2 separate regions of the Homo sapiens genome follow, and region 1 is linked to region 2. The links come from fine-mapping of genetic effects on gene expression. A gene starts in region 2. The other region holds a variant in brackets. All regions are shown on one strand. Distances are between the middles of the regions.

Region 1 (5,375 bases), 250 kb before region 2:
CAGGGGAGACAAGATTTGTGGGGAAAGAAATAAAGATAATGAGCGTAGAGAAAGTGGGAAGGGTGGGAAATAATGTCTGGGTTGGGAAAGGGTGGGAAAGGATTTTCTCTACCCGTTGGAATTAGTTTATGGCATTTCTACATGGCCCGGAGATGCGAAGGAGGAACAACAGTTTGAGACACAGGACTAAGTTCTTAATTAATTCTTCTTTCTTTCCTGTTCCCTGCATGCCCTCCCTACTTATGCCTCAAAAGGGTCAGGGACCGCTGGGTGGGACCAGGGTCAATACTCACTGGATTTTGTGGACTTGAGAGCAGAAGTCAAATATATCCATAGCACATTCCAGAGCATGAGTGAGCTCGTCAGGTACCTTTTCCCCAGGGAAGCCAAAGACACAGAGGAAAGAGCAGCCCTGTGAGGGAGAGAGACAGCAACCACAGCTGATGGACAGTGTGCTTTAAACTGGACTGGCCAGAAGGCTCAACAGAGAGCCGGCGGCAATTTTTGGCTTCTGAATCAGATTTTATCATGATTTCTCTCACAGTATTTTATTTTTAGTACACTTCAAACACTTCTACTGCATCATCAACAGGAGGGCTTGAGCCTTGAGAAGGGCTTGTTTTGCTCCAGATATAGTGAATAGGGCTGAGCTATCTGTGTGCATGCTTCGGCCTACTCTCTCCTGTGGCCAAGGTCCATGCTGCAAAGTGCTCAGTTTAAGTCTATGAAGCAGCAGCACAGAGCAGTGGAAAAGGCACCAGCTCTGGAATCAGAAAGTCTCTGTCCTCAAGCCACTTCTCAAGTGTGGAAACTTAGATAAGTCTATTACAATCTAGGAACTTCCGTTTATCTCTCTGAAAATGGATATACTGTAGACCTGCTGAGATGTTTTTGGCTACTAAAAGAATTAATGTGTTATATATATTCAAAAAGTCATCCTAAACTATAAAGTACTTTGCAGATACTGTTATTCTTAGGGATAAAGGCTTAGGCTGTAAGTAGGTTTTCTTATCATAAAGCTAACTGTTCCATGCAATGATTCAACTCTAAAACTTGGCATTTGTAGTATTAGTCACTTAAAAAATGACCTCAGTCAGGTGCTGTTGTCTGTAAGAAAAGGGCATTGTGAATAAAGGGTGATGGGTTGAAATTTTGAGTTTTTGACATGTTACATCCTGATAAAATGCAAAGAACACTAAAATACCTCAATTTCTTCAACCCTCTCCAAAAGAATTTGATCAACTGTTAGATCTTAAAAAGGACTGGGATCTGCCTTGACATGAAGGGGGAAACACTGCTTCTAGGTACGTGCAAAGAGGGCAACCCCTTTGGGGGAAGCAGGGAGCTTTTGCCTGCAAATTTATGTAGCGGCCTGGCAAGAGCTTTTGATTCCCCCTAGCAATGGAATGACAGCTCTCATTTATTGCACACTGACTCTAAGATAGGCATTACACCAAGTGCCTCACACATATTACATTATTTAAAACTTTCCACAATCATTTGAGACAAATACTATCCCCATTCAAAGAGGAATAAACCAAGGCTCAGAGAAGTTCAATGACTTGCTAAGTCTCACAGCTGGGAATCTTTGGAGCCATGTCTGCAAGACACGAAAGACTGTTCTCTTAGATTCTACACTCTTTTCTTATGATACCCATGGGTCAGTATTGAAGAAGGTACTGGAGACACCAGGCTGGAAGTAATCCCTTTCCAGAACTCCCATAGCACAGAGTTAGTTCGTCTCATATAGAATGCATGCTTCCTGCCTGGTTGTGTCAATATATGTGTTACTCATCTCTGCTGCCCAGCCCTAGCTTTTCGTCTTCTATGAAATGCTCAGTAAATGCTTGTTGAATTAGTGAGTGAGTGGATGTGGGGCAGTAATTAAGTGCTCTGCTTTTAATACACAAAAGGAATTGAGATGGGAAATCAATTCTCACATATGCATCTGTGGTCATTTGTTCATCACATCACTTTTCTCTGAATTGATTAAGAACAGAGTGAAGACCAGGTGCAGTGGCTCATGCCTGTAATCCCAGCACTTTGGGAGGCCGAGGCAGGTGGATCACTTGAGGTCAGGAATTCGAGACCCACCTGGCCAACATGGCGAAACCTCATCTCTACTAAAAATACAAAAATTAGCCAGGTGTGGTGGCGCATGCCTGTAATCCCAGCTACTCAGGAGGCTGAGTCAAGAGAATCGCTTGAACCCGGGAGGCGGAGGTTTCAGTGAGCCGAGATCATGCCACTGCATTCCAGCCTGGGCAATAGAGCAAGATTCCGTCT[C/CAAAA]AAAAAAAAAAAAAAAAAAAAGAACAGAGCGAAAACACCTGGGAGCCAGAGGCAGTCCCCTCCCTGCCATGGATGAAAATAAAAGGGGAACTGGAGGTGTTGACATGGCAAGTGGGCTTTCTTGGAAACAAGCTTCTGGGGTAAGATGGTTACTAAAGACTCCTGACCTGAAACCCCTGGGTAATACATCATGCACTGAGCTGGAGACTTATGTGTAGTGAGAGGTAGCCCAGCGTAGTGAGAGGTAGCCCAGCATAGTGAGCTCAGACGGGGATGGCAGACTGCCTGGGTTTGAATCCCAGCCTCCCCCTTACTAGCTTGATGATCATAAGCAAAACGTAATCTCGCCTTGTCCTGGTATCCTAATCTGTGTTTCAGCATCCTCATCTATATAATGAGGATAATGACAAGAGCAACCTACTGCTCAGAGTGGTCATGAGGATGAAATGAGTCAATAGAGATCAGGTCCTGAGAACAGTGCCTGGCACATAGTAAGTGCCATATCCACCATAGAAGTTATAATTATAAACAAAGACTGGCCTTCTAGGTTAAATTTCTTTTTTTGTTTAGTTGAGACGGAGTCTCACGCTATAGCCCAGGCTGGAGCGCAGTGGTGCGATCTCGGCTCACTGCAACCTCCGCCTCTCAGGTTCAAGCCATTGTCCTGCCTCAGCCTCCTGAGTAGCTGAGATTACAGGCACGTGCCACCGCACCCAGCTAATTTTTGCATTTTTAGTAGAGACAGGGTTTCACTATGTTGGCCAGTCTGGTCTTGAACTCCTGACCTCAAGTGATCCGCCCACCTCTGCCTCCCAAAGAGCTGGGATTACAGGCGTGAGCCACCACGCCCAGCCTCTAGGTTAAATTTCCTGTGTCTATTCTCACCAATGTGCTTGTCCATGAATGCTAACCTAAAACTATTGGTAGGTTCCCATCCCATAGTTCACACTTACCTTGTCAAACATGAAGACTTTATTGATTTGGCCTTGGAAGATCTTCAGGACAGAAGTGATGTGCATATAGGCATCCTGGATGGCTGGGCCTATCTCTTCTGCTTTGTCTTGGTCTTCAAACATCAGGTTCACAAACACAATCGTCACTGGGCGAAGCTCAGATAAATAGCCCTGAAGCTGTTTGTTATCAATCTGCAAAGTAGAGAGCAGCTTTCTGTAGGTGTCCTTGGCAGTGGATCCCTCCCCCAACACCGCCCCCACCTCATACCCGAAATCATCTAGGGAATGTCTACCTCAGAATGGGTGAGGTACAACATGACAGAGCCAGCATGCCTGAAGTGGAGCAGATGGAAATATAATCAAAATCCCTCTCTTCCAGTGGGGACTTATGCATGTGCTAATTTTTGGCCAGCAACCACTCCATTACCCCAACTGCTGGCTTCCTCATGCCAATATGAGCCATTGCAATAAGGGAAATAACTACTGTTCTTTTTGGCTCTCCTATTTTTAAAAAAATTTAAAATTTTTTAATTTTTGTAGGTCTATAGTAGATGTATATATTTTTGTGTTACATGAGATATTTTGATACAGGCATGCAATGCGTAATAATCACATCAGGGTAAATGGATTATTCATCCCCTCAAGCATTTATCCTTTGTGTTACAAACAATCCAATTATACTCTTTTAGTTATTTTTAAAATGTATGGTTGTATTAGTCCGTTCTCCCACTGTTATAAAGAACTACCTGATACTGGGTAATTTACAAGGAAAAGAGGTTTAATTGACTCACAGTTCCATGGGCTGTACAGGAAGCATGGCTGGGGAGGACTCAAACTTATAATATGGCAGAAGACGAAGGAGAAGCAGGCACTTCTTATATGGCCAGAGGAGAGCAGGGGGAGTGCTACACACTTTTAAACAATCAGATCCCATGAGAACTCATTCACTATCACGAGAACAGCAAGGGTATAATCCACCCCTATGATCCAATCACCTCCTACCAGTCCCCTCCACCAACATTGGGGATTATAATTCAACATGAGATTTGGGAGGGGATACAAATCCAAACCATATCAATGATTAAATTATTTTTTACTATAGTTACCCTGTTGTACTAGCAAATACTAGGTCTTTCTCATTCTTTCTCTTTTTTTGTACTCATTGACCACCCCCAATTCCTCCTCATCCCCCACTACCCTTCCCAGCCTTTGGTAACCATCCTTATATTCTCTACCCCCATGAGTTCAATCATTTTAATTTTTTTTTTTTTTTTTTTTTGAGACGGAGTCTCGCTCTGTTGCTCAGGCTGGAGTGCAGTGGCGCGATCTCGGCTCACTGCAACCTCTGCCTCCTGGGTTCAAGCGATTCTCCTGCCTCAGCTTCCAGAGTAGCTGGGATTGCAGGCATGCACCACCATGCCTGGCTAATTTTTGTATTTTTAGTAGAGACGGGGTTTCACTGTGTTAGTCAGACTGGTCTCGAACTCCTGACCTCATGATCTGCCTGCCTTGGCCTCCCAAAGTGCTGGGATTACAGGCATGAGCCACCATGCCCAGCCCAATAGTTTTAATTTTTAGCTCCCACAAATAAGTGAGAACATGTGGTTTCTCTTTCTATACCTGGTTTATTTCACTTAATATAATGACCTCCACTTCCATCCACGTTGTTGCAAATGACAGATCTCATTTTTTTTATGGCTGAATAGTACTTCGTTGTGTATATGTACCACATTTTCTTTATCCATTTCTCTGTTGATGGACACTTAAGCTGCTTCCAAGTCTTGACTACTGTGAATAGCACTGCAGTAAACATGGGAGTGTAGGTATCTCTTCAATATATTGATTTCTTTTCTTTTGAGTATGTATCTAGGAGTAGAATTTCTAGATTGTATGGTAGCTCTATTTTTAGCTTTTTGAGGAACTTTCAAACTGTTCTCCAAGGTGGCTGTGCTAATTTACTTTCTCATTAACAGTGTACAAGGATTCCCTTTTTTCCACATCCTGTCCAGCGTTTGTTATTGCCTGTCTTTTGGATAAAAGTCATTTTAACTGGGGTAAGATGATAATCTTATTGTAGTTTTGATTTTCATTTATCTGATGATTGGTGATGTTGTGCACCTTTTCACATATTTTTCA
Region 2 (5,375 bases):
CCTATATGTTACTGTGTTTTAAAATATTTACAGCTCTTAGTTTTGAAAAATTACTATATTCCATGAATGCTTTACATTATTTACCTAAGGTCACAAGTTTATAAGGGGCAGGGCTGGGAGGTAGGCTGTCTGACTTCAGATAGTGCTCTTAACACAGTGTTCTCTCACCCATTGCTTGAGTATAAAACAAACACAAACTAAAATAAAATTGAAATATACCTCCTCATGCTTTACCCCTGGCCAACTGCAAATTCCTTCCTTTATGCTCCAGCACTCCCTGAACATATTTGCCATGAATGCTATCCTCTCCCCTGCTGAGCACATAAAATGTGCAAGGAAATAGATTAAAACTAGTTGTAAGCCTTTTCTCTTGGTGTAGAAACAGAGTCATAGACGAGTACTGGGTGAATGAATGAAGTATGGAGTCATAAAGTCAATCCCTCCTCCAAACTCCAGGTAGCACTGATAGCTATCTCTAGTTCTGTTGATGTTTTTTGTTCTTATAGAAAAACAGCAAGAAGACACCATTTCTCCCCTGCTGTCATGCTTTACTGCATCTCAGAATGACAGTCAGTGCTTCCCAAGGTCTCACACAGAAGACGCAAGCAGCCTGCACACATAATTTGGTTAAACTGCACGCACATTAAAAAAAATGTTTTGAATCAGTTGCTATCTTTAAAAATATATGAAGCTTGTTTTCCGTAAAAATTTACAGTTTCCCCCAAAACTAAGATCAGGCAACCATGTGCTGGAGCCCCACCGCACCTGCAGCTGCCCCCTTACTGGAGACAGGCTTAGCAGCACACAGCTCCCACCCAGCCCTCCTGTCCACCCGCCTCCTGCACTCAGGCTTCCTGACTGGTCCCTGCTGGCAGTGGAGTTTACACCACAGAACTGTACCTCCTCTTGCTGACATTTAGGTCAGTTCCAGTTCAGCCCATTCTGTCTTCCTCGGAACCCAAACAGAGAGCTCGCAGCCCTCTGACCACACAGTGCTCCTTCACCTCTCAGAGGACGCACAGTGCACCAGGCTGCAACACAAAGAGAACGGTTCGGATATCGTTGCGGCCTTGGATTAGTTCCAAAATGTCAAGCGGGCCTCTTAATGAGGGGTCTCTATTCTTGATGTTATGGCAGTGGAGCTACAGGGCAGGGAGAAGCCCTGAGTTAAAGAACTCACCTGTGTGCCATCAGGAAACCACGTGAAAAGCACTACCAAGGCAAAAGATCTGAGTTCAATCTGGGCTGCTTACCTAGCTGGGCAAGAATGCTTCATCTCTCCTGAGCCTCAGTTTCCTCACCTATCAAATGGGCTAGTAGAGCTTCACAAGGTTGTTGTGTGAATGAAAAAGTGTACATGAAAGTGCTTGTAAGCACCTGACAAGTATAAAATAAGACGGGTGTGGAGGAGGACCGGAAGAGAGGTGCTCTGAAAGAAGTAACAGAAATGGGTGCCATGCATTCCAGTTACAGTTGAAGAGCCTCTGTCTCTATGACCTGAGGTCCCTCCCACCTCCTCTTTCTGCCCTGAGGGCCTGAAAAATGCCTCTCTTCACTTGCTCCCAGTGGCTGCAGTAAAATAGATTATAAGGGAAAACCGCCTATTCCCCGAAGCAGTAGCTCTCCAGAACTCATCTGGAGGTCCAGGTCACTAGGGGAGAAGAAGCCAGGCTGAATCCACGCCTGGCTCCACGGAGGAGCCACAAGGATGGCCATCCTCCCCCAGCCCCTAGGACGCTGAGACAGGCTCACCGGAGGTTATCGGTGTCTCCATTGGACAATCAAGGAACTGAGGTTCTTTCCCTCCAAAACCACACACCTCCTCACGGCTTCACCGGGAGGTGGATCAAATGACCTGCTCTATGAAAGCACTTTGCAAAAGGGATGAAAGTACAATAACAAGCAAAAATAGCCTCCAAGATGTGATATAAAGCGATGCCAATGCGCAGCTATGTGGTTACTGGTGAGCAGACCTCCGGGAAGCACAGGACACACCCCACTTACCCAACAGACGTTCTCATCCCATATGCCTTTGTCCAAAGGTTGCACGGGGGTTAAGCTTGGCCCAGAAGGCGCCGAGGGCTGGTCGAGTTCTCCCCTTTCCAAGAACCAGCCGAATCTCCCTCCCGCAGATCTGAGGGGCAGAGCCGCCCATCCGGCGGCGCCGGGCCACTTCTGGGCGCGCCACCCGCCGCCCGCCCAGGCTCGGGGAGACAGCGCCCTGAGTCCCGGCTGGGAGAAGGCTGCTCACCTGGTCCTCACGGATTCCAGCCGAGGGGCGTGACCGCTTCTCCCCACACCCTTTGCCCTGAGCGGGACGTGGAGTCTCTTGGCCCCAGGGGGCGCGGCCCGCATCGGCAGAGTCCCGGGCACGCACCTACGCCCTCCCATCCAGCGGACTGTTTAGGGGCTTCGGGCGGCGCCGGAGAAACGGGGCGGGCTGCACCCAGCAGAATGGGGTGGGCCTCTCAGAAGCCCCAGGCCGCAGGGGAGGGGCGCGCCCCCAACATCTTCCCACAAAGAGCTCCAGCTCTCCAAAGCAAGGCGCAGTGCGGGCGGAGGACAGCCCTGACCTCCGAGAGGGGCGCGGGGAGAAAGGGAGCGCCGTGGGGGCGGGGACCCTTCCCGGCCCGCGCCCTGAGCCCTCAGCCTCGCACAATGAGTTTAGCCTGGCTCCATCCGGACCGCCCTCTCCGCCCGGGCCCGCGCCCGCGCCCCACGCCGGGTGCTCACCGAGGAGCGGCCGCCGCGGCAGCTCAGGCCCCGGCCCAGCCGCCTCCCCGCCTCGGCCACCGCCGCCGCCGCTTCCTTCCTCCCCGCCGCGCTCCGGGACTGGAGGTTTCGGGTTTCAGCCCACCGAGCCCCGCTTCGCTCCTCCCGCGGGCCAGCCACCAGCACGCGGACCCGGGCGGGCGCAGGCCAAGTAACTTTGCGGCGCCCGCGCCCCGCCCCGCCCCCCCCACGCCCGGCCGGGCCCCTCCGGCCCCCGGAGCCCCGAGCCGCCTCCCCGCGCCCCGCACTGCCCCGCCCCGCCCAGCTCCCGGCGCCCCTCCCCACCCGCGCCCCTTCCTTCGCGTCCGTCCGCCCGCCCTCCCGGCTGCTTCTTTCCCATTTCTTCCCACGAACAGCCTCGGCTGCTGCTCTTTGTCTCGCCCTTACCCTCTCGGCTCGCCCCACTTTTCTCCTGAAAACCTTTGTGGTGCCTAACTCAGGCCTTCCCTGTTCCCGTTCCTCCGCCCCAGTTCCAGCCGCTGGGACGTCGCCTTTTCCATGTCTCTCTCCATCACACAGACACTTTCAGATTCTTCCCGCAGGCTCCGCACAGTCCCATTCTCCTCCTCCAGTCCCGCCGTGGACGATCCTGGTATCGCCTTTGCTGCTCACCTTTCATTCATCCAGCCGACGGGCACGAGCATCCATCTGCCTTCTGCCAGGCTCTGTCCCGGGCTCTGTTAATACCACAGTGAATTCGTCCCGAAGCCAGCCCCGGGGAGTGGGGAGTGGACGTAAACAGGTCTTCACACTGCTGCCCTGCACTCCCTCGGAACCAAAAGGCCAGGGAGCAGTCATCACAAAACAAAGAGCGGGCGCTGTCAGCTCGGGGGACGGAACAGTTCCTTCTCAGAATGTTTGTTTTCCCTTCCTCACTCCCCACTTTGCCTGCCTGTCTCCAGACTCCTACGTTTTCTATGCAGCAGTCTTAATAAGGGGATGAAAAGTTGAAGCACAGAGTAGAACTGCTAAAAAGGGAAAGAAGGAAGGACAAACAGGGCAGCAAAATAATCAGGTAAGAAGTTACAAAGCCCAGTTCACTAAACTCCAGAAAAAAAAAAACAAACCCTGATGCTGTGCTTAGAGCAGGATTCACATTCCTCTGAAATCCATCTGCTTTGATAAATACATTAATTATTCCCTTGTCTACAGATTGACACTGTGGGAGATGCTTCCTTAATATTATTGGGCCACTGAGGCACAATTTAGAACAGTAATTTACTGTCTGGCACCTGCCAAACACCCACATTGCTCTGGGGACAAATGGGATAATGGGGAGAAAAAAGTAAATGGGTGCCTTAATATTCCTATGGGATAAATGCTTTATTTGGTCAAAAACTGGAAGCTGACGCTCCACTTAAGAGTCTAGGTCACGCGGCAAGCCAGACACTTGAAGGAGCTTAAAGCTTTCTGTTCTTAATAGTATTTTAGACACTTATTTTGAAATCCCTGATATTTATTTAATTTACACTGACTCAGATGTCGGCTAAGCTCTATGAGCCTGAGGGAGTGAGTTAACCTTCCTCTCAGCTTATTCATATATAAAATGGGGATACTCATACTTTCCTATCTGTAGAGTTGAAAAGGTTAAATGAGGTCATGTAAGTAAATCATCCAGTGACATAGAATCTGAGAACTAAACCCTTTTGAAAATTGGTATTCACGAAAGGTCTGAAAATATATGCCACAGACTGGCATGGTGAGAATGAGAATAAAAAATAAACAGTTACGGCTGTTGTGGCTCCATACCCATCCATGATGCGAAAGATGTCCTTCATACTGAGCAACCTTTTCCCATACTTACTCTATTTCATTTTGAACTCTTCAACAGAAAACACTTTTTTTCTCCTGCTGCTCATTATCAAATGCATTATTTATCACAAAGATTTTTCTTTTTTCTGAGCTCATAAGCTCAGAACTTACTGTGCATTCAGGGATGGAAATTGCTGCCAACAAATGCATTTTCAATTGCTCTCTTAAGATTTTTTTCCCTTCTGGAGCTAATATTGAGCTATGAGCAGAATTCAATCAGATGCAGAGAAAACAGACAAATTATTATTAAAGTAATTATTTCACCGTATATCATTGTATAGGTGACAATTGTGAAAAACGTGACTGATTTTGTGCAAGAATGTATTTATATTTTTTTAGAAAAAGAGAAAGATACACACTAATTCTCCTTTCCCAAATTAGTTTAATAAACCATTCTGTTTTAGAGACATCCACAAAGACTTATAAAGTAAGATAATGAGAGGCCTTGTCCAACTGAACCTCACATGTGTGTTGAATAATTTATATATAAAACATATTTTATGTAAAATATCATTTCAGTCTAGCAGTCCACATAAAACTGGTGAAAGCAAAACTGTGAAATATGCTATTTGTTCCACATGGAATGTTATTTCCTCCACTCTTTACAGGCCAAGCCCTTCCTGCCCTTCACATCTCACCTTAAATGTCACTTCCTTAGAGAAGTCTTCCCTGATGGGATCTTGCTATGTTGCCCAGGCTTGTCTTTAACTCCTGGGCTCAAGCTATCCTCTCACCTTGGCCTCCCAAAGTGCTGGAATTACAGATGTGAGCCACTGCACTCAGCCCCTGAC

Evidence for each region. PIP is the estimated chance that this variant, and not a neighbour inherited with it, causes the effect.
Region 1: its variant is fine-mapped to the expression of GPR161 in prefrontal cortex (BrainSeq, PIP 0.95).

What each region holds. Positions count from the first base shown.
Region 1 is chr1:167,880,198-167,885,572 of GRCh38, forward strand. It overlaps ADCY10 (adenylate cyclase 10), which reads right to left. Exons shown (of 33, transcript NM_018417.6): 9 at 3,240-3,431; 10 at 294-412. It also overlaps a transcript of DCAF6 not described here. Among named protein-coding and RNA genes, the nearest start is that of ADCY10, 31 kb to the right of the region's middle. The variant C/CAAAA (reference allele first, on the strand shown) is at 2,287.
Region 2 is chr1:168,134,006-168,139,380 of GRCh38, forward strand. GPR161 (G protein-coupled receptor 161) reads right to left here and starts at 2,925. Exons shown (of 6, transcript NM_001375883.1): 1 at 2,734-2,925. RefSeq lists silencers at 2,568-2,797, 3,326-3,620.